Homo sapiens: one gene and its partners. The protein of the gene in region 1 interacts with the protein of each later gene in a pairwise test. Each region holds a gene or a part of one and is shown in the gene's direction. Other genes may lie near its edges. The genes, in order: CCNDBP1, ZNF394, PIAS2 and RPL7L1.

Region 1 (7,035 bases):
CCTCTCTTTTCTGTAAAGGGCCAGTTAGTAAATATTTTAGATTTTGTAACCAACTACCCAACTCTGCCCTTATAGAGCAAACACAACTACAGACATTAAAACCAGTGAGTATGGCTGTGTCCCAATACACTTCATTTCCAAAAACAGGCAGTGGGGCCTGACTTGGCCTGAGGACCACAGTTTGCCAGCTCCTGGTCTAAGATATCATGAATATCTTGGGATACAGAGTATCAGGAATAAGTTTTTTCCTGCTGTTTCTTAATGGTTTATTGAGTTGTCAGCCCAATATCTACTATATAGCTAACTCCTCCCTGGTATGTGATGAGTATAGTAGGCCTGCCTTCATACCAGGACTTCAGAAAATGTTTGATGATGCTGTAGAAATATCTGCCCTAGGCCGGGTGCAGTGGCTTACACCTGTAATCTCAGCACTTTGGGAGGCCAAGGGAGGTGGATCACCTGAGGTCAGGAGTTCGAGACCAGTGTGGCCAGTGTGGCAAAACCCCATCTCTACTAAAAATACAAAAAATTAGCTGGGTGTGGTGGCGGGTGCCTGTAATCCCAGCTACTTGGGAGGCTGAGGCAGGAGAACTGCTTGAACCTGGGAGGTGGAGGTTGCAGTGAGCCAAGATTGCGCCATTGCACTCCAGCCTGGGTGACAGAGTGAGACTCTGTCTCAAAAAAAAAAAAAAAAAAAAAAAAAAAGAAAAAGAAAGAAAAGAAAAAGAAAAGAAATATCTGCTCTATTCCACAGCAGAAGGGTTGACCACTTTGATCTAATCTGTTTCCTTTTTCATAGGAAACCCAGAAGTTCTGTGAACAAGTCCATGCTGCCATCAAGGCATTTATTGCAGTGTACTATTTGCTTCCAAAGGATCAGGGTAAGCCACATAAGTGTTGCATTTATCGTGTAGATCTTTGCTAATATTGTGGATTATGTCTTGTGACTTTTACCTTTACCCAACTTGAACATGTAACTTTCTCCCATAAAATACAGTGAAGGATAATTTTGTAATGTAAGTGACTTATATAAACAAGCCATTATTCTAAGATACAGATGCTTTGTTCCTATGACTTCCCATCTCCCCTGCCTTGCCTGACTCATAAGGCTTTTAATTCTCACAGCCTTCTCCCTCTTCAACCCGTTTTAACACCACAGATACTGGCTGGCTCTCAGCCCCATATGCAGGCTCAGGCCATCCTTACTTTCCTCCACCCATGTTATATCTCACCCTATTTCTGAACATCTGCATAGGTTAAATGGCCTCCAGCCCTGCCTGTAGAATCATGCATTGATTATAATCATGCCAAAATTATAACTGAATACATGTCATGGATCTTCAGGGTTACTCAAGTGGCTTAAACTTCAAGTGTTTCATCTACAGTTGTTAAGAGATCACGGTCCTTAATGAATGAATACATGGTGTCACGGAAAGATTTTGTTCCAAATCTCTTTTGAAGAAAACACTAAGGAATGGCAGGAGGGGCAAGAAAATGCCATGGGGATATAAGTAAGACCTGAGTTTTGTGTTAGCATGTAGGTTAAAGCATGTGGGTGTACATTACCTTATAGTTCTGTAATGCTTAGACTCAGGAAAGCAGATGGTGCTTCTGAAAAGAACACCAGGTTGCTTATTCTTTGGGTTTGGCCACAGGGATCACCCTGAGAAAGCTGGTACGGGGCGCCACCCTGGACATCGTGGATGGCATGGCTCAGCTCATGGAAGTACTTTCCGTCACTCCAACTCAGAGGTAGTGATGCCACAGTTTAGGTTACCAGTTATTGGGGTTCCTTGCCTCAGAGGGGAAAAGCTCATTTTAACAGCAAAGTTACTGACAGCTGAGAGTAATGACCAGCAGGAAGAAGCTTTTTAGGAGACAGGAACCTAGGTTATTAATATATCCTTACTGATTTCTTTCCCCAGCCCTGAGAACAATGACCTTATTTCCTACAACAGTGTCTGGGTTGCGTGCCAGCAGATGCCTCAGATACCAAGAGGTGAGTGAAAGTGGGCAGTGGGCCATGTCTGCTGGCCAAAGCAAAGAGACCTCATGTCTAGCTTCCAGCTTTGTAACATGTATTTGAATTTATATAAACAGTCTAGTGAAATATATATATTTTATTAATGAAATTAATAGGTAGGTATTAATACTTTTTGTCATTCTCTAGTTATCATACTTCTAAATTCCACTCCCCCTTGCTGTGGCTGTCTCTTGTTGAACAAGTATGGTTTGTTTTCCTAGTCCTACCCCAAGAGTAGTATTATGGAGCACACTGAAGCAGTTATGAGGTAGAGACAGCTAGGCCAAAACAGTGGTTGTCCAAGAGGACCATGATGATAAACATCATGTGACCATTTTATTTCTTCTTGTGAATAAAATACAAGCTTTTTAAACCCCTATCTAGATACCAGGGGATGTAGTGAGAATTTTTTATTAAACCCGCACCCTTGTCAACCGTCCTTGGCACTCCCATCAATAGGAACAATGTGATTGTTCCTTGCAGTCATAAGAAAATTGTTGGATTTCTCCTCTAATTCTAGTGCTTCTGATTTTTCACTCATAGATAACAAAGCTGCAGCTCTTTTGATGCTGACCAAGAATGTGGATTTTGTGAAGGATGCACATGAAGAAATGGAGCAGGTGAGGGGACCTCCATCATTGGAAGGCAACTCCTTGACTAGTAGATGAGAATTAATTATAAAGAGAGATTTCCTGAGCATTGACCAGATAGGTCCCATTCTCACTACTGTCCTCTGTCTTCCATCTCCCACTGCTTGTTAGTGTTTGATTTAGTACCACTCCTCTGTGTTCCCTTACTGGACAAGGAGAGCGAGAACAGGGTTTATGAAGTGATTCAACTCTGTAGCCCTTAGTGAAGTGGCTGGCTAAGATTTTTGGACAACTAAGACATCGTGGTAAAAGTATAATAATAGGCCTCGCCTTTTTTTTTTTTTTTTTTTTTTGCATTCACATACATCATGGTATGTCTTAGGCTGTGGAAGAATGTGACCCTTACTCTGGCCTCTTGAATGATACTGAGGAGAACAACTCTGACAACCACAATCATGAGGATGATGTGTTGGGGTTTCCCAGCAATCAGGACTTGTATTGGTCAGAGGACGATCAAGAGCTCATAATCCCATGCCTTGCGCTGGTGAGAGCATCCAAAGCCTGCCTGAAGAAAATTCGGATGTTAGTGGCAGAGAATGGGAAGAAGGATCAGGTGGCACAGCTGGATGACATTGTGGATATTTCTGATGAAATCAGCCCTAGGTAAGCGGGATCCCCACTTGAAACATCTGAGCAGCAGCGTTCTGATTTCAATTTGTGTTGTCACCTCAAGGTTTTCACAGTTTTTTTATATTTTGAAATTTTTCAAACCTATAGGAAAGTTTAAAAAGTACCTTCAGTGAACACCCCTATATCCTTCTATTAGATTTGCCTGTTGTTCACATTTTTTCCTATATTGGTTTATTTCTCAAGAGATACTGTTTCATATTTATTCCAGAATGTTTTGAGAGTAAATTGCAGACAGCAATGACATTTCACCCCTAAATACTTCAGTATGTATCTCCTGAAGTACTCTTATTCCTACTCTTATTATCACATCCAAGAAATTTGACATTGAATATAATAGTATTATCTAATATTCAGATTTCCCCAGTTGTCTGTATCTAAAATGTCATATAAATTCAGGGTTCTGTCAAGGTCCCACATTGCATTTAATTGTCATCTCTTTAGTCTCTTGAAATCTAGAACAGTTCCTATCCTTTGTAGTCTTTTTTAATCAACATTTTAAAAAGAAACCAGGACAGTTGTCTTGTAAAATATCCAACAACCTGGATTCACGTGATTGTTAGTTCTCATTTTTGCAAGAATATCATATAATTAAGTGTTTTGTACATCTCATTTTATCATATTAGGGAGGCACATGATGTTGGTTTGCCTCATTATTGGTGGTACTAAATTTGATCACTTAAAGTGGTGCTCACTTTAGTAAAGGTATATTTTACTCTAATTTTAGCTTCCACTGATGAAGGCTGCCTGCCTATATTAGTTATTAAACTGATGGTTTCACATCCTCACATTTTTGACTGAATTGATCATGCACCCTACTATGAACCAAGGGAATTTCCCCCCCAGCTTCCTAGTGAAATGGGGTATGGTTGTTTCAATAAAGACTGGTTGAACTCATTCTGTATTGGTTGCCCAGTTGCCCAATTTTAAAAACTGACAGGCATTTCTGGGACAGTTTCTCACTGTTGACATCCATAGTTGTGTACTAGAAACAACCTGGCTGCGTTTTTTTGTTAATGATTACTTTTGTTTTCTGCTCTTAGTGTGGATGATTTGGCTCTGAGCATATATCCACCTATGTGTCACCTGACCGTGCGAATCAATGTAAGTACTGGCTTTGAGGGAATAGCTACAGAACAAATGGGCAGAATTTCACTAATCACTAGTATTTCCTGTAAGCTATAGGGTACATATTTATTAGTCACATTTGGATGGAAGTACAACAGTAATGTCACAGTTCTTGCATGCGTTTGGGGTTGATAAATATTCACTGAAGTTGAATTATAATAGCCATGAGCTTTGGTAGTTCTCTCTTCCATAATCACCTGGGTAATCATTCAGAAAAGCCCAAAGGCCTTAGAAAATGATGCTTTAAGGCTGGGCGCGGTAGCTCACACCTGTAATCCCAGCACTCCAGGAGGCGGAGGTCAGGAGTTGAGACCAGCCTGGCCAACATGGCGAAACCTTGTCTCTACTAAGAATACAAAAATTAGCCGGGCATCATGCACCTATAATCCCAGCTACTTGGAAGGCTTAAGCAGGAGAATCGCTTGAAGCCGGGAAGTGGAGGTTGCAGTGAGCCGACATCGCGCCACTGCACTCCAGCCTGAGCAACAGAGCAAGACTCTGTCTCAAAAAAAAAAAAAAAAAAAAAAAAAAAAAAAAAGCTTCTTTGAAAAGAAAGTCTTAATTACACGGTAATTTAGGAACTTCTCAACTTGAAGTCACAAGTTTCTAATTTCTAGACTAGGCAGCAATTAGATTGAACTTCAGCTGTTCATGAAGTAGCTGGCTGAGGTCACATGTTTCTGATTTCTAGACAAGGCAGAAATAAGTGTTCCAGAAACATACTCTGTTCTAATACAAACACATTGTGTGATTTAACTATGGAGAGTCAACTTTCTTATAAAAATCTGATTTTATTGTATTCTTTGAGGTTCTGTGCCCTTTACTAGAGAGAGTTCTGTTCTCTCTAATGTTATTGGAAAGAGCAGTAAAACTGCCAAATGGCTTATATTTTACAATTGAATGTATCAATTCTAGTAATATTTGATAAATTGGATAATGGAAATTAGATTCATCAGATGTGTCTTCATGATGTATAAACACCTTGAAGTAGAATAGGATCCTTTTGGGCATTAACATTTTTTTGGCATTAACTTTTAAAAAATTGACTTCCTAAGAAATAAACATTTTTAGCAATATGCCTAGTCAGCTATCCCAAACATAGTATCTGCTCTAGCAATTTTAAAATGTGTACTGCATATGCATCTTATATGTATTGATATTTTATATTAAACGTCTCCATCTTATCCTTATATTGGTGTTCTTAAAATTCTTAATGCGCTTTTTTTTTTTTTTTTTTTTTTTTTTTTTTAAAGGAACCTTAGTCATTTCTGCTTTATATTTTGAGCTATCAGCATTTGGGACCAATTCAGGTTACATTTTCCTTTTTCTGTCCTTTTTTAAATTGAAAATATTTTAGATCTAAAAAATCTTATTAAAATGTTATAGCAATAGTATTAATAAGATCTTGCTAAATAGAAAAGAACCCGTAATCCTGCCACCCTAACCTAATCAGCATTTTAAATTTTGCATACTTCCTTCAGGTCCTTTTTCTAAATAATTTTTTTATTACTTGGGTCTTTAAAAATATTTGAACTCACCTTTTTATGGTAGGGCTCAGGGTGAATAACTTCTGTGTTTCTTTTCTAGTCTGCGAAACTTGTATCTGTTTTAAAGAAGGCACTTGAAATTACAAAGTAAGTATGAAGACTTCTCAGATAGCTTTTTGTGAGTAAAACGGAACTGCTGTCCAGACGTTCTCAACTCCCTAGCTCCCATTTCAAGGAGTGGGAAAGGGTGGGTGTGGGATTTTCTTTCAGCTTCAGTTGTGGGGCAGCTGAGATTCTGCAAAGAAGCTTCCCTTTAAAAAAATTTTAGTTTTCCCTGTGCTCCCTCCTGAGGATAGGTTTTCCCTTGACATCCTAATAAGTTTAACTTACTTCTTTCCTATTCTATTCACAGAGCAAGTCATGTGACCCCTCAGCCAGAAGATAGTTGGATCCCTTTACTTATTAATGCCATTGATCATTGCATGAATAGAATCAAGGAGCTCACTCAGAGTGAACTTGAATTATGACTTTTCAGGCTCATTTGTACTCTCTTCCCCTCTCATCGTCATGGTCAGGCTCTGATACCTGCTTTTAAAATGGAGCTAGAATGCTTGCTGGATTGAAAGGGAGTGCCTATCTATATTTAGCAAGAGACACTATTACCAAAGATTGTTGGTTAGGCCAGATTGACACCTATTTATAAACCATATGCGTATATTTTTCTGTGCTATATATGAAAAATAATTGCATGATTTCTCATTCCTGAGTCATTTCTCAGAGATTCCTAGGAAAGCTGCCTTATTCTCTTTTTGCAGTAAAGTATGTTGTTTTCATTGTAAAGATGTTGATGGTCTCAATAAAATGCTAACTTGCCAGTGATTAAATGAGTGCCCTTCCAAAGTTTCTTTTTACCAGAAATACAGTGGATTGAGACTAGAACATTGCTTTCATTTGGGTTTGTAGGTTTAAAAATCTGATTCTAATCAGAAGTATATTTAGAACAAAACACTTTATTTATAAAAGATGACTCCAAAATTCATCTTAGTATTTCACCATGTTATATATTATTATCAGCAAGTCCTTCTGAATATTATCACAGATTACTCCATGTCTCTAAAAT
Region 2 (4,577 bases), on another chromosome or scaffold:
GAGGCTGAGGCGGGAGAATGGCGTGAACCTGAACCTGGGAGGCGGAGGTTGCAGTGAGCCGAGATCGTGCCACTGCACTCCAGCACTCCAGCCTGGGTGACAGAGCAAGACTCCGTCTCAAAAAAAAAAGAAAAAACATTTTATATATATATATACATATATATATATATATATACACACACACACACACACACACACACACACACACACGTATGTATGTATATACATATATATACACATATATATATAGGCTTTGGTACTATACACAATTTCAGGCATCACTGGGGGACTTGGAACGTGTCCCCACAGAGAAGAGGGAACAACTGTATGTTCATCTTGCTCTCCAAAGAGCCCATAACTAATGTATATGCCACCAGCAATACTAATAATTTTTCTTTCTCCATATTCTTGTCAACATTTGCTGTTGGCTGGGTACGGTGGCTCACACCTGTAATCCTAGCACTTTGGGAGGCCCAGATGGGAGGATTGTTTGAGGTCAGGAGCTCAAGACCAGCCTGGGCAACATAGCGAGACCCCATCTCTTTAAAAAAAAAAATTAATAAAAAAAATAGTAATACATTTTGGCCGGGCGTGATAGCTCAGGCCTGTAAATCTCAGCACTTTGGGAGGCCGAGGTGGGCAGATCATGAGGTCAGGAGTTCAAGACCAGCTTGGCCAACATAGTGAAACACCGTCTCTACTAGAAATACCAAAAATTAGCCGGACCTCTGATGCCTGATGTGCAGGGGCCCTGGCACCCTGCTCACCCACCCATCCCTTCTGCTGCCCTTTGCCTGCTCTGGCCACACTGCCTTGCTGCTCCAAAATATGCCAGGCCCCGCTGCCTCCTGGTCTTTGTGCTATGTGACCGCTCTGCCTGGAATATTCTACTCTACTCTGTAGGAAGCAAAGTTTCAGGGCTTTGCTCAAATTGCTCCCTTGTGCCGGGTGTGGTGGCTCATACCTGTAATCCCAGCACTTTGGGAGACCGAGGTAGCTCACACCTATAACCCTAGCACTTTGGGAGGCCGAGGCAGGTGAATCACTTGAGGTCAGGAGTTCGAGACCAGCCTGGCCAACATGGTAAAACCCCGTCTACTAAAACACCTACTAAAATACCTACTATAATACCTACTAAAATACCTACTATAATACCTACTAAAATACCTACTATAATACCTACTAAAATACCTACTAAAAATACAAAAATTAGCCAGGCCAGTTAATGGGCACCTGTAATTACAGCTACTCAGAAGGCTGAGGCAGGAGAATCACTTGAACCTGGGAGGTGGAGGTTGCAGTGAGCCGAGATCACGCCATTGCACTCCAACCTGGGTGACAGAGTGAGACTCTGTCTCAAAAAGATAAAATAAATAGGCTGGGTGCAGTGGCTCATGCCAGTAATCCCAACACTTTGGGAGGCCAAGGCAGGTGGATCACCTGAGGTCAGGAGTTTGAGACCAGCCTGACCAACATGGTGAAACCCCATCTCTACTAAAAATACAAAAATTAGCCGGGTGTGGTGGCACGTTGCCTGTAATCCCAGCTACTCTCAAGGCTGAGGCAGGGGAATTGCTTGAACCTGGGGGGCAGAGGTTGCAGTGAGCTGAGATCACTCCACTGCACTCCAGCCTTGGCAACAAGAGCGAAACTCCATCTCAAAAAAATAAAATAGCTGGGTGTGGTGGCTCACGCCTGTAATCGCAACACTTTGCAAGGCCGAGGGGGGTGGATAACAAGGTCAGAGGAGTTCGAGACCATCCTGGCCAAGATGGTGAAACCTCGTCCCCACTAAAAATACAAAAAAATTAGCCGGGTGTGGTGGTGGGTGCCTGTAATCCCAGCTACTTGGGAGGCTGAGGCAGGAGAATCACTTGAACCTGGGAGGCAGAGGTTGCAGTGAGCTGAGATCATGCCACTGCACTCCAGCCTAGGCAACAGAGCAAGACTCCATCTCAAAAATAAAATAAGATACGATAAAATAAAATATAGGCTGGGTGCTGTGGCTCACGCCTGTAATCCCAGAAGTCTGGGAGGCCGAGGCAGGCGGATCACGAGGTCAGGAGTTCAAGACCAGCCTGGCCAATATGGTGAAACACTGTCTCTACTAAAACTAGCAAAATTAGCACCTGTAATCCCTGCTACTTGGGAGGCTGAGGCAGGAGAATCACTTGAACCCAGGTGGCAGAGGTTGCAGTGAGCCGAGATCATGCCACTGCACTCCAGCCTGGGCAACAGAGTGAGACTCCATCTCAAAATAAATAAATAGCAACAGAGTAATACTCTGTCTCAAAATAAATAAATAGGGAGGCTGAGGCGAGCGGATCATGAGGTCAAGAGATAGAGACCATCCTGGCCAACATGGTGAAACCCCATCTCTAATAAAAATACAAAAATTAGCTGGGTGTGGTGGCGTGCACTTGTAATGCCAGCTACTTGGGAGGCTGAGGTAGGATAATCAGTTGAACTCGGGAGGCAGAGGTTGCAGTGAACTGAGATCGGACCACTGCACTCCAGCCTGGTGACAAAGCAAGACACCGTCTCAAAAAATAAATTAATTAATTAAAAAGTAAAAGGGGTTTGAGGGTTTAACATTCTGCCAGCACTTGCTTATTTCTGTGTTGCACAGGGATGCACTGGCAGGAATTTGTATTTTCACGTTTCAGGTTTGGAAAGCAGAGTGGAGAACAAAGAGTTGATTCCAATGCAACAAATTTTAGAAGAAGCGGAGCCACAGGGGCAACTACAAGAAGCGTTCCAGGGGAAGCGCCCCCTGTTTTCTAAGTGTGGCAGTACCCATGAGGACAGGGTGGAAAAGCAGTCCGGAGACCCCTTGCCCCTGAAACTTGAAAATTCTCCTGAAGCAGAAGGACTCAACAGCATCTCAGATGTCAATAAGAATGGTTCCATAGAAGGGGAAGACTCTAAAAATAATGAATTGCAGAACAGTGCCAGGTGTTCCAACCTTGTTCTATGTCAGCACATCCCGAAAGCAGAGAGGCCCACTGACAGTGAGGAACACGGGAACAAGTGCAAGCAAAGTTTCCACATGGTGACGTGGCACGTGCTGAAACCTCACAAGTCTGACAGTGGAGACAGTTTCCATCATTCCAGCCTTTTTGAGACCCAGAGGCAGCTCCATGAAGAAAGACCTTATAAATGTGGTAACTGTGGGAAGAGTTTCAAACAACGCTCTGACCTCTTTAGACACCAGAGAATCCACACAGGTGAGAAACCCTATGGCTGCCAAGAATGTGGGAAAAGCTTCAGCCAGAGTGCTGCCCTGACCAAGCACCAGAGGACACACACAGGCGAGAAGCCGTACACCTGTCTGAAATGTGGGGAGCGCTTCAGGCAGAATTCACACCTAAATCGTCATCAAAGTACCCACAGTAGAGACAAACATTTTAAATGTGAGGAATGCGGGGAAACCTGTCATATTTCCAACCTTTTTAGACATCAGAGACTACATAAAGGGGAAAGACCCTATAAGTGTGAAGAATGCGAGAAGAGCTTCAAACAGCGCTCTGACCTCTTTAAACACCACAGAATCCACACTGGGGAGAAGCCCTATGGATGTTCCGTCTGTGGGAAACGCTTCAATCAGAGTGCAACCCTCATTAAACACCAGAGAATTCACACTGGGGAAAAGCCTTACAAATGTCTTGAATGTGGGGAAAGATTTAGACAAAGTACACACCTTATCCGACACCAAAGAATTCATCAAAATAAAGTGCTGTCGGCTGGGCGTGGTGGCTCACGCCTATAATCCCAGCACTTTGGGAGGCCAAGGCAGGCAGATCATTTGAGATCAGGAGTTTGAAACCAGCCTGGCCAACATGGTAAAATCCTGTCTCTACTAAAAATACAAAAATGAGCCGGGCATGGTGGTGCATGCCTGTAAGCCCAGCTATTCGGGAGGCTGAGGTAGGAGAATCACTTGAACCCAGGAGGCGGAAGTTGCAGTGAGCTGAGATCATGCCACTGCACTCCAGCCTGGGCAACAGAGCGAGACTCCATCTCAAAAAAGAAATAAAGTGCTGTCATTTTGATATGTTTCTATGTGACTTGGCCTGTTTCTTTTCTTGTCCAGAACCACATTCCTTGCCATTTGGAGTATATCAGTCAATTATGGATCTTCCTTGAGTATCTCCTACAAGATAGGTTCAATCTGTCCTGAGCCTCATTACAGACTGATAGTTTCAGTGAGTGAGGAATGAGGAAGTAGGGGGCCTTCTGAAATGTGAGCTGATGCCAGGTAAGAGACTTCTGATGATAAGAGCCAGGCTGACATGTAACGGGGTTCTGTCCTTGTTATCTGCGCTCTACCTTTATGTATTATTTTTGAGACTGGGTCTCGTCGTAGCCCTCCAGCGGGAGCCCAGTGGTGTGATCGTGGTTCACTGTGGCCTCAACCTCCTGGGCTCAAGTGATCCTCTTGCCTTAACCTCCTGAGTAGCTGGGACCACAGGCACACACCACCACACCCAGCTTTTTTTTTTTTTTAAGAGATAGGGTCTTGCTATGTTGCCCAGGCTGGTCTCAACCTCCTGGGCTCAAGGAATCCTCCTGCCTCA
Region 3 (7,035 bases), on another chromosome or scaffold:
ACAACAGCCCATAGAGCCAGTTGCATTAACATCCTTTGCCAAATAATGTTATCACTGGAAATATGAGATATGAGACCTCCTAGAAATTCCTCTGAGAGTCAAGCTTAGGTAGGATGACTTTGTGCTTTGTTTTGTCATTTCTGTAAAATAGCTTCCCTTAAAATGAAGAATATCTGACAATAAGTATAAGGAGTGAAGCAAAGTAGTGAATTCTGAGTTAGAAAAAATCAGTTATGTTTTATCTGTGTGATTGCCTTTTTTAGTATTAGTGTTCCACAATCAATTGAAGTATTTACTAAGATTGAGGGAAAGATGCATCGTATTACTTGCTTGGGTAAACCCTTCCCAAGAAGCTGTTGTCTTCTGTTTAATGCATGAGATGTTGAGTAAGCTGTGACTGGTTTGTTATGAGATAGGCCAAAAGTTTTCTTGTTTTCCTTCTTTGTTGTCTGCACTGTAGAGGTAACACACATTGTGGTATGTGTTCTATTAGAGTATGATTTAGAGCTACCACAGTGTGGTAGCTAGTGGCCACATGTGGCTCTTAAGCACTTGAAATGTGGTTAGTCCAAATTTAGATGTATTGTAAGTGTAAAATATACACCAGATATTGAAGACTTAGTATAAAAAAAATCCCACTGACACTTTAAAAAATGATTATTTTTAAATTACAAAAATTGATTGCATGTTGAGATGAAAAGATAGTTTTGATATATTGGGTTAAATAACTATGTTAATGTAAATTATCATTATTATTATTATTATTTTTGAGACAGTCTTAATATTGCCTAGGCTGGAATATGGTGGTGTGATCACAGTTCACTGTAGCCTCAAATTCCTGGGCTCAAGTGATCCTCTCGCCTCAGTCTCCTGAGTGGCTTGGACCACAGGCACACACACCACCATGGCTGGCTAATTTTTAAATTTTTGTGGAGACGGGGTGTTAGTATGTTGTCCAGTGTGGTCTCGAACTCCTGGGCTCAAGTGATCCTCTTGTGTTGGCCTCCAAAAGCACTGGGATTATAGGTGTGAGCCACTGTTCCTGGCCTAAATTAGTTTTTTTAATGTGACTACTAGGAGGTTTAATGTGTGTCTTCTATTAATTTGTGTTGGACAGCACTGAATTAGAGTATAAAATGGCTTGCCAGGATTACAATTTAATATTCTCTCACTTGTACATTATGAAATATAGAGACATATATAGTACACAAAGTACAGTTATGACAGTGTATATGGATTACTTTGGCATATTTAAATCTGTTTGCATTTTAGTAAACTAGCAAGTATTTATACCAACAAGTATTTAAAAACCATATAGGGTTTTAAACAGTTGCTTCTGGGCCGTCCCTGAGACTTAAAAAGTACAGAGCAACTGCCCCACATTTCCACTATACTGATGAGACAAGCAGGTTGAAAAGGAATCCCAAGTGACTGTGGAGTGTGTAGCACGGGCTGGGTTGGGGGAGTGATGAGGATGGGATGGGACACCAAACCACAGGTAGTTCTCCTGGGTAGGTTTCTGACAGGGCTTTGGTCAGCTCCAGGTGTTCTTCCTCTTTCTTGCTAGATGATGCATGTGTGGTATCTGACCCAAGTGTGATTTGCCTCTGAGTTCAGAATTGACTGGAAATCACTAAGTAGGTGGATTCCTGAGGCTGCAAGGGGTTAAAAATATTCATTAAGTTTTGCTGAAAAAATAGAAGGTGTGATGTGAAGCTGCAACTGCTTATAACCTTTGTTTTACGCCCAAGCACAAGCCAGTAGAGTAGTGTGGAGGAAATGTTGCCCTTTAAGATTGATGACTGCTCATTTCCTTGCTCTTCAAAGGTCTTTTTCTCATTTGGATACCCAGCTGGGAATTTCAGTTGTTTTAGAAGTTTGACTGCTAAATAAGATGTATGTGATTTTTTAGCTTTAATATTTTAAAATATCTTTATTATGTTGTTTGTTTGTTAATGTTTGAATTGGGGTAAAAAATTCATTGCATTTTGGATCACAGTTCTGACTTGATTTTTATGGATTTACTACTCAGCATCAAAAGTTACACATCTAACATTGTGAAAATCTGATTTTTTGTTTGGTTAATTGGCGATAATTCTGTAACAAACATTACATTGTATATTGGGAGGGGTTGGTTTTGAAAAGGAGTATATTCATTGGTGATAGATTTTATAGTCATAAAGCAAATAACTGTTTGCATTAGAGCATAATCAGATAATGAAGTGGTTAGTAGAAACCAATAGACTATAGATTACCAAAATTAAGATCTTGTACAACAAAATATAATTAACACCGTAACTTGAATGTAATTTTTACGGGATTGTCTTATGAATGGTAATGATTCTAAGTGGTATGTGAAATGCTGTTACTAGCACATGCCAATTGATAGAATGCTGGAAAAATCACATTTTACATTATATTTTAGATAGGATTTTTGTATGCTTGAGGGTGACTTGGCTTATGTTTTTTTTTCTTTCCTTTTAGAATATGGTTTCTAGTTTTAGGGTTTCTGAACTACAAGTATTACTAGGCTTTGCTGGACGGAATAAAAGTGGACGCAAGCATGACCTCCTGATGAGGGCGCTGCATTTATTGAAGAGCGGCTGCAGCCCTGCGGTTCAGATTAAAATCCGAGAATTGTATAGACGCCGATATCCACGAACTCTTGAAGGACTTTCTGATTTATCCACAATCAAATCATCGGTTTTCAGTTTGGATGGTGGCTCATCACCTGTAGAACCTGACTTGGCCGTGGCTGGAATCCACTCGTTGCCTTCCACTTCAGTTACACCTCACTCACCATCCTCTCCTGTTGGTTCTGTGCTGCTTCAAGATACTAAGCCCACATTTGAGATGCAGCAGCCATCTCCCCCAATTCCTCCTGTCCATCCTGATGTGCAGTTAAAAAATCTGCCCTTTTATGATGTCCTTGATGTTCTCATCAAGCCCACGAGTTTAGGTAAGTGTTTGAGAATTCAGTTTCTTCTGAACAAGATAGTAAATGAAATGAGAGACCTTCAACTATTGATTAATGATGTGCTGTTAATATAGTGAAATTGAGGCATCAATGCCGAATGTTTGAATATACGGATAAAAATTCGGCAACCATGACTGAAATCTAATAGAAGCTTTATTTCATATCATTTGATCTTTCTTCTTCTCCAATTCTTTTATTGTAAAATACACATAATATAAAATGTATCATCTTGATCATTTTAAAGTGTACAGTTGAGTGGTGTTAAGTATGTTGGTAATGTTGTGCAGCCATCACTGCCATCCATCTCCAGAACTCTTTTCATCTTCTGAAGCTGAAACTCTGTACCCATTAAACAATAGCCTTCCTCTCCTCCTCTCCCACTAGCCCCTGGCAGTTACCATTCTACTTCCACTGTCTATGATTTTGACTATTCCAAGTACCTCATGTCGTTGGAATCATACAGTATTTGTCTTGTGACTGGCTTATTTCACTAAATGTAATGTCCTCAAGGTTCTAGCATGCTGTAGTTTATGTTAGAATTTCTTTCCTTTTAAAGGCTAAATAATACAATAGTATACATTTTTAAAGAAAAATAGTAATCTTTTGCTCACTCCACTACTCATCCCTCAATCTCACTTTCAAGAGGCAACAACCTTAATTATTTTAGCTGTTTCTTCTGGTTTTACTTCTATATTTCTGTGTTATAGGATACCACATTTTGCTTATCCATTGGACACTTGGGTTGCTCCCACATTTTAGCTATTGCGAATAATTCTGTGGACACGGGTATACACGTATCTCTTTGAGACCCTGCTTTTCAATTCTTCTGGCTGTATACCCACAAGTGGAATTGCTGGATCACATAGTCATTCTGTTTTTAGTATTTTGAGGCATCACCATACTGTTTTCCGTGGCAGCTGCATTTTACATTCCCTTCAACAGTGCACAAGGGTTCCAGTTTCTCCACATCCTTAACAACACTTTTATTTTCCTTTTTTTTTTATAGTGGCCATTATAATGGGTGTCAGGTGGTATCTTATTGTAGCTTTGATTTGCATGTCTGTAATGATGGTGATATTGTGCATTTTCATGTGCTTTTTGGCCATTTATGTATCTTTCAAGAAATGTATAGCCAAGTCTCTTGCCCATTTTTGAATTGGTTTGTTTTATTGTTGTTGAGTTTTAGGAGTTCTCTGTATATTCTGGATATAATCCCTTATCAGATATATGAATGTGCAAATATTTTCTCCCACTCTGTGGTTTGCCTTTTTTACTCTGTTGATAGTGTCTTTTGATGTACAACTTAACATTTTTTCATGAAATTCCAATTTGTTTATTTTTTGTTGTTGTTGCCTATGCCTTTGGTGTCATATCCAAGAAATCATTGCTAAACTTCATGCTGTGAAGGTTTTGCCCTGTGTTTTCCTTTAAGAATTTTATAGTTTTAGGTCTTACATTTAAGCCTGATCTCTTTTGAGTTAATTTTCGTATATGGTATTAGGTGAGTGTCCAGCTTTGTTCTTTTGTTTGTGGATATCCAGTTTTTCCCCACCATTTGTTGAAAAGCCTGTCCTTTCCCTCACTGAATGATCTTAGCACCCTTGTCAAAAAGTATTTGACCATGTATGTGAGGTTTTATTTCCAGGTTCTCTGTTCCAAGGTCTCCAACCCTCAGGCCGTGGACTAGCACCAGTCCACAGCCTGTTAGAAACCAGGTCGCACAGCGGGAGGTGAGCAGCAGGAGGTGAGCAGCAGGAATTCGAGCATTACAGCCTGAGCTCCACCTCCTGTCAGATCAGCAGTGGCATTAGATTCTCATAGGTGCAGGAACCCTACTGTGAACTGTGCATGTAAGGGATCTAGATTGCATGCTCCTTACGAGAATCTAATGCCTGATGATCTGAGGTGGAACAGTTTCATCCAGAAACCATTCCCCTGGCCTGTGGGAAAATTGTCTGCCATGAAACTGGTCCTGGCCAAAAAGGTTGTGACTGTTGATTTATTCCATTGGTCTAGATGTCTGTCTTTATGCCAGTATCACAGTTTTGATTACCGTAGCTATGTAATATGTCTTGGAATCAGGAAGAGTGAATTCTCCAGCTTTAATTATTTTGTAAGATTGTTTTGGCTATTTGGGGCCCTTGAGATTCCACGTGAATTTTAGAATGAGTTTTTCTATTTCTGATAAAAAAAAAAAATTGGGATTTTGAGAGGAATTGTAGTGAATCTGTAAATTTGTTTGGGTAGTATTGATATCTTAGCAATATTAAGTCTTTCTTTTCCCACATAGGCTGATGGGGAAAAAAAAAATTAAGTCTTCCAGTACATGAACATGAGCTGTGTTTCTATTTATTTATGTGTTCTTTAATATCTTTCAGCAATGTTTTATAGTTGTTATTGTACAGGTTTTCATTTTCGTGGTTAATTTTGAAATATTTTTTCTTTTTGATACTATTGTAAAAACTACATAATTTCCTTTTCATCATATTTATTATTAGTTTATAAAAATGCAATTGATTTTTGCGTGTTGACTTTGTATTCTGCTACTTTACTGAATTCATTTATTCTAACAGGTTTTTTGTGTGAAATCTTTAAGGTTTACTGTATATAAGAGCCTACCATCTGTGAACAGGAATAATTTTACTTCTTTCTTTTCTGTTTGTATGCCTTTTATTTCTTTTTCTTGCTTAGTTGCTCTGGCTAGAACTTACTCAAGCATTCTTATGGTGTAGAAATCAGATTGCTTCCGTGTGAATGGGAATAGATACAAATCTTATTTATTGATCCTGATTTTGTATTTTGATACTTTTCATATTTTTATAAAGGGACTTACTTTCCATTTAATGTAGCTTTTAAACTGATTTTCTAAGAAATAAACCTTTTATATTTAATTTTATTTCTAAAGTGGCACAGGGAGTTTGACATGCAGTTTTTTAGCTTTTATTTAATGCCCATCAATTGCTTACAATGTGACTAACAAATTTTTGCATTGCTGTGTTATAATTCTTACTGCCTAATGAAGTTATTTACAAATATATTTGAATTTCTTTATGAAATAAATTGGGAAGTAACATTTCATAGTTGATGTGGAAGATTGCTTTCTTTTCTTTCTTGGGAAAACCCTTTTTATTTTCAGTCATGTGAAAACACTTAAACATATCAGTGTGCTTTTTTACCTGTCTTACAGGATTGTACTGCAGCCTGTCTTGGTTAAATCGGAAGGTTTTGAGGGGTAGAGCTAGTTAGTGGGGTTAGTATGGCCTGACTAGTGGCAGGCAATGTGGCTATTTTTTTTTTTTTTTCAATTTTTTGCTTTTTGCTTTATTTATGTTTTAGCAAAACTGGTGATCCAAGCAAGTGGAGTATTGCATTTTATCTCTTTATTACGTTCACTTTGAAATAAGGATTGAGTGTTTGTTCATGTTTTATTATTTGTTTGTACAAAGTCCTATGAGTAGAATTATTGGATCAAGTAAAAAGAACGTTTTAGACTCTTGATAACATATTGCCAAATTATTTTAGTGCCAGTTTAAATTCCACAAGCAAAGTGAGAGAATGCTTGTCATATCTCATTACTTTTTGCCTTTACTGGGTGCTATTGAAAACAGATCTCTGTGATTTTTAGATGAAAACTTGTATCTTGCTTAAATTTTTATTTTTAAAATTAGTAACAGGAGCAAGTATTTTATTTTATTCGATTTTATTTGTTTTTTTTTGGAGGGGGGGGACAGAGTCTTGTTCTGTCGCCCAGGATGGAGGGCGGTGGCGCTGTCTCGGCTCACTGCGGCCTCCACTTCCCCGGGTTCAAGCAGTTCTCCTCTCTCAGCCTCCCGAGTAGCTGAGGCTACAGGCATGTGCCACCACACCGGGCTAATTTTGTATTTTTAGTAGAGATGGGGTTTCGTTACGTTGGCCAGGCTGGTCTTGAACTTCTGACCTGAGGTGATCCACCCGCCTTGGCCTCCCAAAGTGCTGGGATTACAGGTGTGATCCACTGCACCTGGCCAACAAGAGCAAGTATTTTAAATGCTTATTACCCGGTTGTCTGTCTTTTATGA
Region 4 (7,035 bases), on another chromosome or scaffold:
AAAAAAATAAGTGGGGTCTTTGGCCAGGTGTGGTAGCTCATGCCTGTTATCCCAGCACTTTGGGAGGCTGAGGCAGGTGGATCTCCTGAAGTCAGGAGTTTGAGACCAAGCTGGCCAACAAGGTGACCCTGTCTCTACTAAAAATACAAAAATTAGCCGGGTGTGGTGGCGCATGCCTGTAATCCCAGCTACTTGGGAGGCTGAGGCAGGAAAATGGCTTGAACTCAGGTGGCAGAGGTTGCAGTGAGCCGAGATCATATCACTGCACTCCAGCCTGGGCGACAGAGCGAGACCCCATCTCAGAAAAAAAAAAGAACAAGGAGTGAGGTCTTGTGTTACCCAGGCTAGAGTGCAGTGGCAGGATCATAGCTCATTGCAGCCTTGAATTCCTGGGTTCAAGAGAACCTCCCGCCTCAGCCTCCTAAGTAGCTGGGACTACAGGGTGAGCTACTGTATGTGCTCCTCCAAAGTATTTTCCATCTGGGGTTGGTTGAATCACAGATGCAGAGCACCAAGTGTATATGGTTTATGTCTTCATTTAGCAAATATTTAACACCTGCAGGCAAATGCTGGCGTGGAGTTTAAGGAAACTTGTTAGTAAACACTGATTAATATGTAAACTAATTTTTTGTTCGTTATTTTTCCCAATAATTCCCAAGTTTCCTCAACTCCACCTTTACTTTGGTTTCTCATTTTTCCTTTATATGAAAATAGAGAATGTTGCTTTGCTTCGCATTGTGGAACACGGGGAAATAAGCTATATCAGTTGTCACTTATGAATTACTGTTCTAAAAGTAAAAATGTATGGAGGCACAAGATGATGATGATGGTCTGTCTTCTCTGTAGCAGAAGAAAGGAAAAGGGCTCAGGTTTAAGCGACTGGAATCATTCCTACATGATTCCTGGCGGCAGAAACGTGACAAGGTGCGTCTCAGACGACTAGAAGTGAAACCTCATGCCTTGGAATTGCCAGATAAACATTCCTTGGCCTTTGTTGTACGCATCGAAAGGTAAGGAACTGGTGTCTTTCTAATTGCATGAGGCTGGGGCAAAGTGTTGCTTAAGCTTTAGACCCCTTTCTAGGGAGATAATATGCCCCAAGCCACTCAGGCAAATTGTGCTAGGATGTCAGGGTTGAGCACAATTTAGTCTGCAATATTTGGAAGACCTTAGACAGATAGGCTTGAAAATAAGTGCTATGAGGGTAAAGTGCTCACTAGGGAGAGGGGTTGAGGACACCCTCTCTAAAGCAGGAACTTCAACCTGAGACCTGAAAGATGTGAAAGGCGTTCACCAGTGTTGGGAGATTTTTCAGGCATACGTGCTGAAGTCCTGAGGTAGGGAAAGCAAGGCATCATTCTAGGAACTGAAACAAGGCTGAGTGGATGAAGCATATTCAGTGAAGGGGAGACATTTTTCCTCATTTAGTGGAACTTTCCCAACCCCCTGCCCACCCCATGTACAACTCTACTTCTTGCTGTTTCCCCTACCCAATCACCCAAACCAGAAACCTGTGGATTTTGCATGTTTATGAGCTCTGTCCTTTGTAGCCCTCTACCACTGCTCATATTTTTCCTGAACTATTGTATTAACCTTCCTCCTGGATTTCCTTGCCTCTAGTGTCATACTGTGATCTGTCCCATACACTGCCCTTGGTGATTGTCAGAAAGAAATCTGGTCTGGTCTCTTCTGCTTAAAATCTTCAGTAGCTTTTACTGCCCATAGAAGCACATCCAGCTTCCTTAGCTGGACATGTGTAGACCTACATACCACCACTCCGCCTACCCCTGAAACACACACAAGTTCAATTTCCATAGCATTCCAGGCACTGCTCCACATTATGAAAAGGATCTGTTTTCATAACCGCCTCCCACTAAACTGAGCTCTTTAAGGCATAGTCTCTGTGTCTTATTCCAGATTACCCAGTGTAGTGACCTCGCATGTTGTGCTTGCTGGACTGACATAAACTGGAGGGAGTCTGTCTGACTTCTGTTGCTGTTCATTTCAGGATTGACGGCGTGAGTTTACTGGTGCAGAGAACCATTGCAAGACTTCGCCTAAAGAAAATTTTTAGTGGTGTCTTTGTAAAAGTCACCCCCCAGAATCTAAAAATGCTGCGTATAGTGGAACCTTATGTGACCTGGGGGTAAGTAAGGTTTTCCATGTGAATTCACATTAGATTTCTATTTGAGTGTGTCAGGGTGCACCGGGTATTGCTTTCCAGGGCTCATGTTGCTGTAGAAGGGACATTTTGCTGTGACCACAGTCAACCTGAAATCAGTGGGTAGCTGTAATAACCATGGGACACAGGGTAGGGAGGGGTCTGAACAATACCATAGTAGGGCTGGTTCAGTCATAGGCTAAGGCTGGGTCAAGGAAAGCTTGGTTCTTGAAAGTCTTAAAGCAGAGCTAAAGGCAGTGCATGTGTAAGAGTAGTATTCCTGGCCGGACACACTGGCTCATGCCTGTAATCCCAACACTTTGGGAGGCCGAGGCGGGTGGATCACACGGTCAGGAGTGGATCACAGGGTCAGGAGATTGAGACCATCCTGGCCAACATGGTGAAACCCCTGTCTCTACTAAAATACAAAAAAAATTAGCCAGGCATGGTGATGTGTGCCTGTATTCCCAGCTACTTGGGAGGCTGAGGCAGGAGAATCGCTTGAATCCATGAGGCAGAGGTTGCAGTGAGCTGAGATTGTGCCACTGCAATCCACTCTGTCTCAAAAAAAAAAAAAAAGGCCAGACACGGTGGATCACGAGGTCGGGAGATCGAGACCATCCTGGCTAACATGGTGAAACCCCGTCTCTACTAAAAATACAAAAAAAATTAGCCTGGCACCTGTAGTCCCAGCTACTTGGGAGGCTGAGGCAGGAGAATGGCATGAACCTGGGAGGCGGAGCTTGCAGTGAGTCGAGATCGTGCCACTGCACTCCAGCCTGGGAGACTGAGCAAGACTCCGTCTCAAAAAAAAAAAAAGAGTAGTATTCCTCAAACATTGAAACCCAACAAAAACTTGGATTTTATTTCCAACTCTTGCACCATCTTGAGTAGAGGGTCACCTAAGGCCAGAGTCGTAGCCCCTAAGGTAAGCTAGGACATGGTTTCTGTTTTGTTTTTGTTGGCAATATTTTCCCTGGTGAACATTTACATCCATAAATTTAAATTTCTAATTATGTAAGTGGGGTCACTTCAGTTCTTTATCAGGAGTATTTCCAAGCATTTCAGCTGGAATGTGATTGCAGAACACTTGCTCGTTGGGAGAAGTGAGTGTGTGGGAGAACCTCTCCAACCTCTCAGCCAGGCTGCAGGACTGGTATGTAGTGTGCCAGGTGCTGGTGAAAACCGTGCTTTATTTTCCTACATAGATTTCCAAATCTGAAGTCTGTCCGAGAACTCATTTTGAAACGTGGACAAGCCAAGGTCAAGAATAAGACCATCCCTCTGACAGACAATACAGTGATTGAGGAGCACCTGGGTGAGTGCTACAGCTTAGGGATCAGCTGGGGCAGAAAGCCAGGGTCTTTGAAGCTTTGATGTGAGATTCAGGTTGTATTCTTCTTGGGGCCCCAAGAGTCTGCCAGAGTGGCCAGCTTAGTATATGCTGGATACATGTTAAATAAAGGAATCTGTGCTTTTGTGTTTCTTAGGGAAGTTTGGCGTCATTTGCTTGGAAGACCTCATTCATGAAATTGCCTTCCCAGGGAAGCATTTCCAGGAGATCTCATGGTTCTTGTGCCCTTTCCACCTCTCAGTGGCCCGTCATGCTACCAAAAATAGAGTGGGCTTCCTCAAGGAGATGGGCACACCTGGCTATCGGGGTGAACGCATCAATCAGCTCATCCGTCAGCTGAACTAGACCCAGGTGAGGCAGGGCTGAAAACTGCCCTTGGGCTGACTTTTGATAGGCCATGCCTTGCCACTTTACAAGTTCTTTTTGCATTTACTAGTATTTAAGAGTAACCTTGAGATTGGGAGGAATAGAGGAGGCTGGTACAAATAGATGGAGACCTGCTGGGATCAGTGAATGCCTGATTAGGACATGGGGCTATGCATAGCCTAAGAGTTATAGGCTTAAAGATGTCGAGTAACTAAAAACTGTATTGCTGGCCGGGCGCGGTGGCTCACGCCTGTAATCCCAGCACTTTGGGAGGCCAAGGCGGGCAGACCATGAGGTCAGGAGATTGAGACCATCCTGGCCAACATGGTGAAACCCTGTCTCTACTAAAAATACAAAAATGAGCTGGGTGTGGTGGCGCGTGCCTGTAGTCCCAGCTACTCGAGAGGCTAAGGCAGGAAAATCGCTTGAACCCAGGAGGCAGAGATTGCAGTGAGCCAAGATTGCACCAGTGCACTCCAGCTGGGCGACAGAGCGAGACTCCATCTCGGAAAAAAAAAAAAAAAAACTATTGCTGCAGTCATTCAGATGGAAATGAGGAAAGAATAATATTAATAACTGATTTCAAAAAGGACTTGAAGATGTGAATCATCTATTTTGCTGAAGAAATCTTAACTCTTTGAAATTACTTTTTATTGCTGTTGTCATACTCTTAGGTGCCAAACTGCGGTAAATTTTTTATCAGTGAAGTGGAAGCATGTGTTTTGTTTTGGAAATTTTTATCAAGTATCTTCAGAGAAGATTATTTCCTGCTTTATCTTCAGAAACTGGAAAGGGTCAAAGAAAAGACAGTAGCTGGCCGGTCGTGGTGGCTCATGCCTGTAATCCCAACACTTAGGGAGGCTGAGGTGGGCAGATCACCTGAGGTTGGGAGTTCGAGACCAGCCTGACCAACATGGAGAAATGCCATCTCTACTAAAAATACAAAAATTAGCCGGGCATGGTGGCACGTGCCTGTAATCCCAGCTACTCAGGAGGCTGAGGCAGGAGAATCGCTTGAACCTGGGAGGTGGAAGTTGCAGTGAGCTGAGATCACGCCATTGCACTCCAGCCTGGGCAACAAGCGAAACTCTGTCTCAAAAAAAAAGAAAAGACAGTAGCATATGTTCATGTCAAGCACCTCTCATCACAGTCGAGTTCCAAGGAAAAATTCCAGTGTTTTCTGCATTGGGTGCTGTGTCATCTGAAATCGGCACATTCCATGGAGGAAGGAGTCCTGCTTTGTTGCATGTATCCTAGGGTTTAATGTTGGTAAATGAGTCACTCTAGCATTTGTAGAAGGCTCCCTGAGACTCCTGCAGCAGTCGACCAAGCCCAAGGACATAATTGAATCTGGAGAGTCCTGGGGCCTTGTTTTGAAAAAGACTTGAAATACACATAGGAAGAAAGGCATAAAAATAAATGTTCACTTGTCTCTGCTGTGAGTATGTGTTCCAACTTTTCAGTGATGGCTTTGAGAATTCTCAAACTTGACTGGCTCTAAGTGTATCTGGTGGCTTTTGTATCGTAACCTGAAACTGGCTTAGTACTTTTTCCTAAAAGCTCAGGATTTGAGAATGAGGACCCCTTCGCCAGGAAAACATGTATACACTCAAAATTTTGCTTGCAGTTCTAGGGTGTTTAGACCCTTCTCAGATACCTGTGCATCTTATGGGTTTTGTTTTTCTCTTTGAGACAGTCTCACCCTGTTGCCCAGGCTGGAGCGCAGTGGCATGATCTCAGCTCATTGCAGCCTCCACCTCCTGGGTTCAAGTGATTCTGCCTCAGCCCCTTGATCAGCTGGGATTACATGCATGTACCACCACACCCAGCTAATTCTTGTATTTTTAGTAGAGATGGAGACAGAGTTTCACCATGTAGGCCAGGCTAGTCTCAAACTCCTGACCTCAAGTGATCCACAAGCCTGGGCCTCCCAAAGTGCTGGGATTACAGGCATGAGCAACTGCGCCCAGCTCTTGTGTACCTTATGTGAGGAAGTCCTGCTCAATCAGGATCGGTCACGCAGGCCCTGATCTTGCTACTCTGGTTCCATGTCCTATGGAAGACCAAAGTTTACCAAGATAGATTTTTCCCTTCATAGTGGCAGATAGTGTTAACCCCTGCACCATCTGTAACTCAGAAATCCCCACCATTTCTTCCCCTGGGCTTCAGAATAGAATTGCCTGGTTTCTCTGATGATCAGCATGGTTCCTTAAAACCCAAATCAGCAAGGAATGAACAATTTTGTTTGGCATGGATGAAATTAGCACTGTTTGGCTCGTTAGGCCCCAGGCAGGCAGGCACCTTAATTTTTTCCTTGCATATTCTAGTCTTCAGAAGCATTGCCTTTTGTCCTACTGGTAGTGACATAGACCAATAACAGGGCATCTGGGGATTTTAATCCTGAAAACAGTGAGTCTGATACTGCTTGTGTTTTTCATCAGTGTCCACCCCAAGTGGGTCTTCCTGCTATTCTCTTCACTTAGTTGCCCCTCACTTGCCATCTGAGCAATTGGCAAGGATGTGCCAGGCCTAGGTTAAACTTGGAAACATGCTTGACCATTCTATTCCCTGGTCCTTTAAGATCAGTTTGGCTGCAATTTTGGCTCCTTGGACCCTCAAGCATAGCTGGTAAATCAAGTTAGAGATGTAACTGCCTTAAAACATGCCAGCTTAGGCTGGGCACGGTGGCTCACACCTGTAATCTCAACACTTCAGGAGGCTGAGGCAGGCAGATCACTTGAGGTCAGGAGTTCGAGACCAGCCTGACCAACATGGAGAAATTCTGTCCCTACTGAAAATACAAAATTAGCCGGATGTGGTGGTGCATGCCTGTAATCCCAGCTACTTGGGAGGCTGAGGCAAGAGAATTGCTTGAACCCAGGGAGGCAGAGGTTGCAGTGAGCCGAGATCACACCATTGCACTCCACCTTGGGCAACAAAAGCAAAACTCTGTCTCAAAAAAAAAAAAAAAAAAAGTGCCAGCGTATGAGGTAATTAGATTGGTTCTCTCCAGAGGTAACCTGCCAAGAAGAGATGCTATAGATGTTACTCCTATACTGTAAAACATTGTGAAATCAGATTACTTTAAAATGATGTATTACAAAGTTATGCAAAAAAGCAGTTGTGACTATGGAAGCCCAAGGCTTATATCCCA

What was found.
Region 2: the proteins of CCNDBP1 (region 1) and ZNF394 interact in binary tests that used the Homo sapiens proteins (3 or more experiments, as listed by UniProt).
Region 3: the proteins of CCNDBP1 (region 1) and PIAS2 interact in binary tests that used the Homo sapiens proteins (3 or more experiments, as listed by UniProt).
Region 4: the proteins of CCNDBP1 (region 1) and RPL7L1 interact in binary tests that used the Homo sapiens proteins (3 or more experiments, as listed by UniProt).

Annotation. Positions count from the first base shown.
Region 1 is NC_000015.10:43,188,400-43,195,434, forward strand, and holds part of CCNDBP1 (cyclin-D1-binding protein 1), read left to right. Parts: intron 1-794; exon of another isoform or gene 795-799; coding exon 800-881; intron 882-1,655; coding exon 1,656-1,752; intron 1,753-1,925; coding exon 1,926-1,999; intron 2,000-2,566; coding exon 2,567-2,643; intron 2,644-2,995; coding exon 2,996-3,276; intron 3,277-4,343; coding exon 4,344-4,404; intron 4,405-6,015; coding exon 6,016-6,062; intron 6,063-6,327; coding exon 6,328-6,442; 3' UTR 6,443-7,035. UniProt on the Homo sapiens protein: May negatively regulate cell cycle progression. May act at least in part via inhibition of the cyclin-D1/CDK4 complex, thereby preventing phosphorylation of RB1 and blocking E2F-dependent transcription.
Region 2 is NC_000007.14:99,492,721-99,497,297, reverse strand, and holds the end of ZNF394 (zinc finger protein 394), read left to right. Parts: intron 1-2,666; coding exon 2,667-3,769; 3' UTR 3,770-4,058; downstream 4,059-4,577. UniProt on the Homo sapiens protein: May be involved in transcriptional regulation.
Region 3 is NC_000018.10:46,886,504-46,893,538, reverse strand, and holds part of PIAS2 (E3 SUMO-protein ligase PIAS2), read left to right. Parts: intron 1-7; exon of another isoform or gene 8-108; intron 109-2,484; coding exon 2,485-2,959; intron 2,960-7,035. UniProt on the Homo sapiens protein: Functions as an E3-type small ubiquitin-like modifier (SUMO) ligase, stabilizing the interaction between UBE2I and the substrate, and as a SUMO-tethering factor.
Region 4 is NC_000006.12:42,882,605-42,889,639, forward strand, and holds part of RPL7L1 (ribosomal protein uL30-like), read left to right. Parts: intron 1-846; coding exon 847-1,010; intron 1,011-2,008; coding exon 2,009-2,146; intron 2,147-3,369; coding exon 3,370-3,479; intron 3,480-3,651; coding exon 3,652-3,860; 3' UTR 3,861-7,035.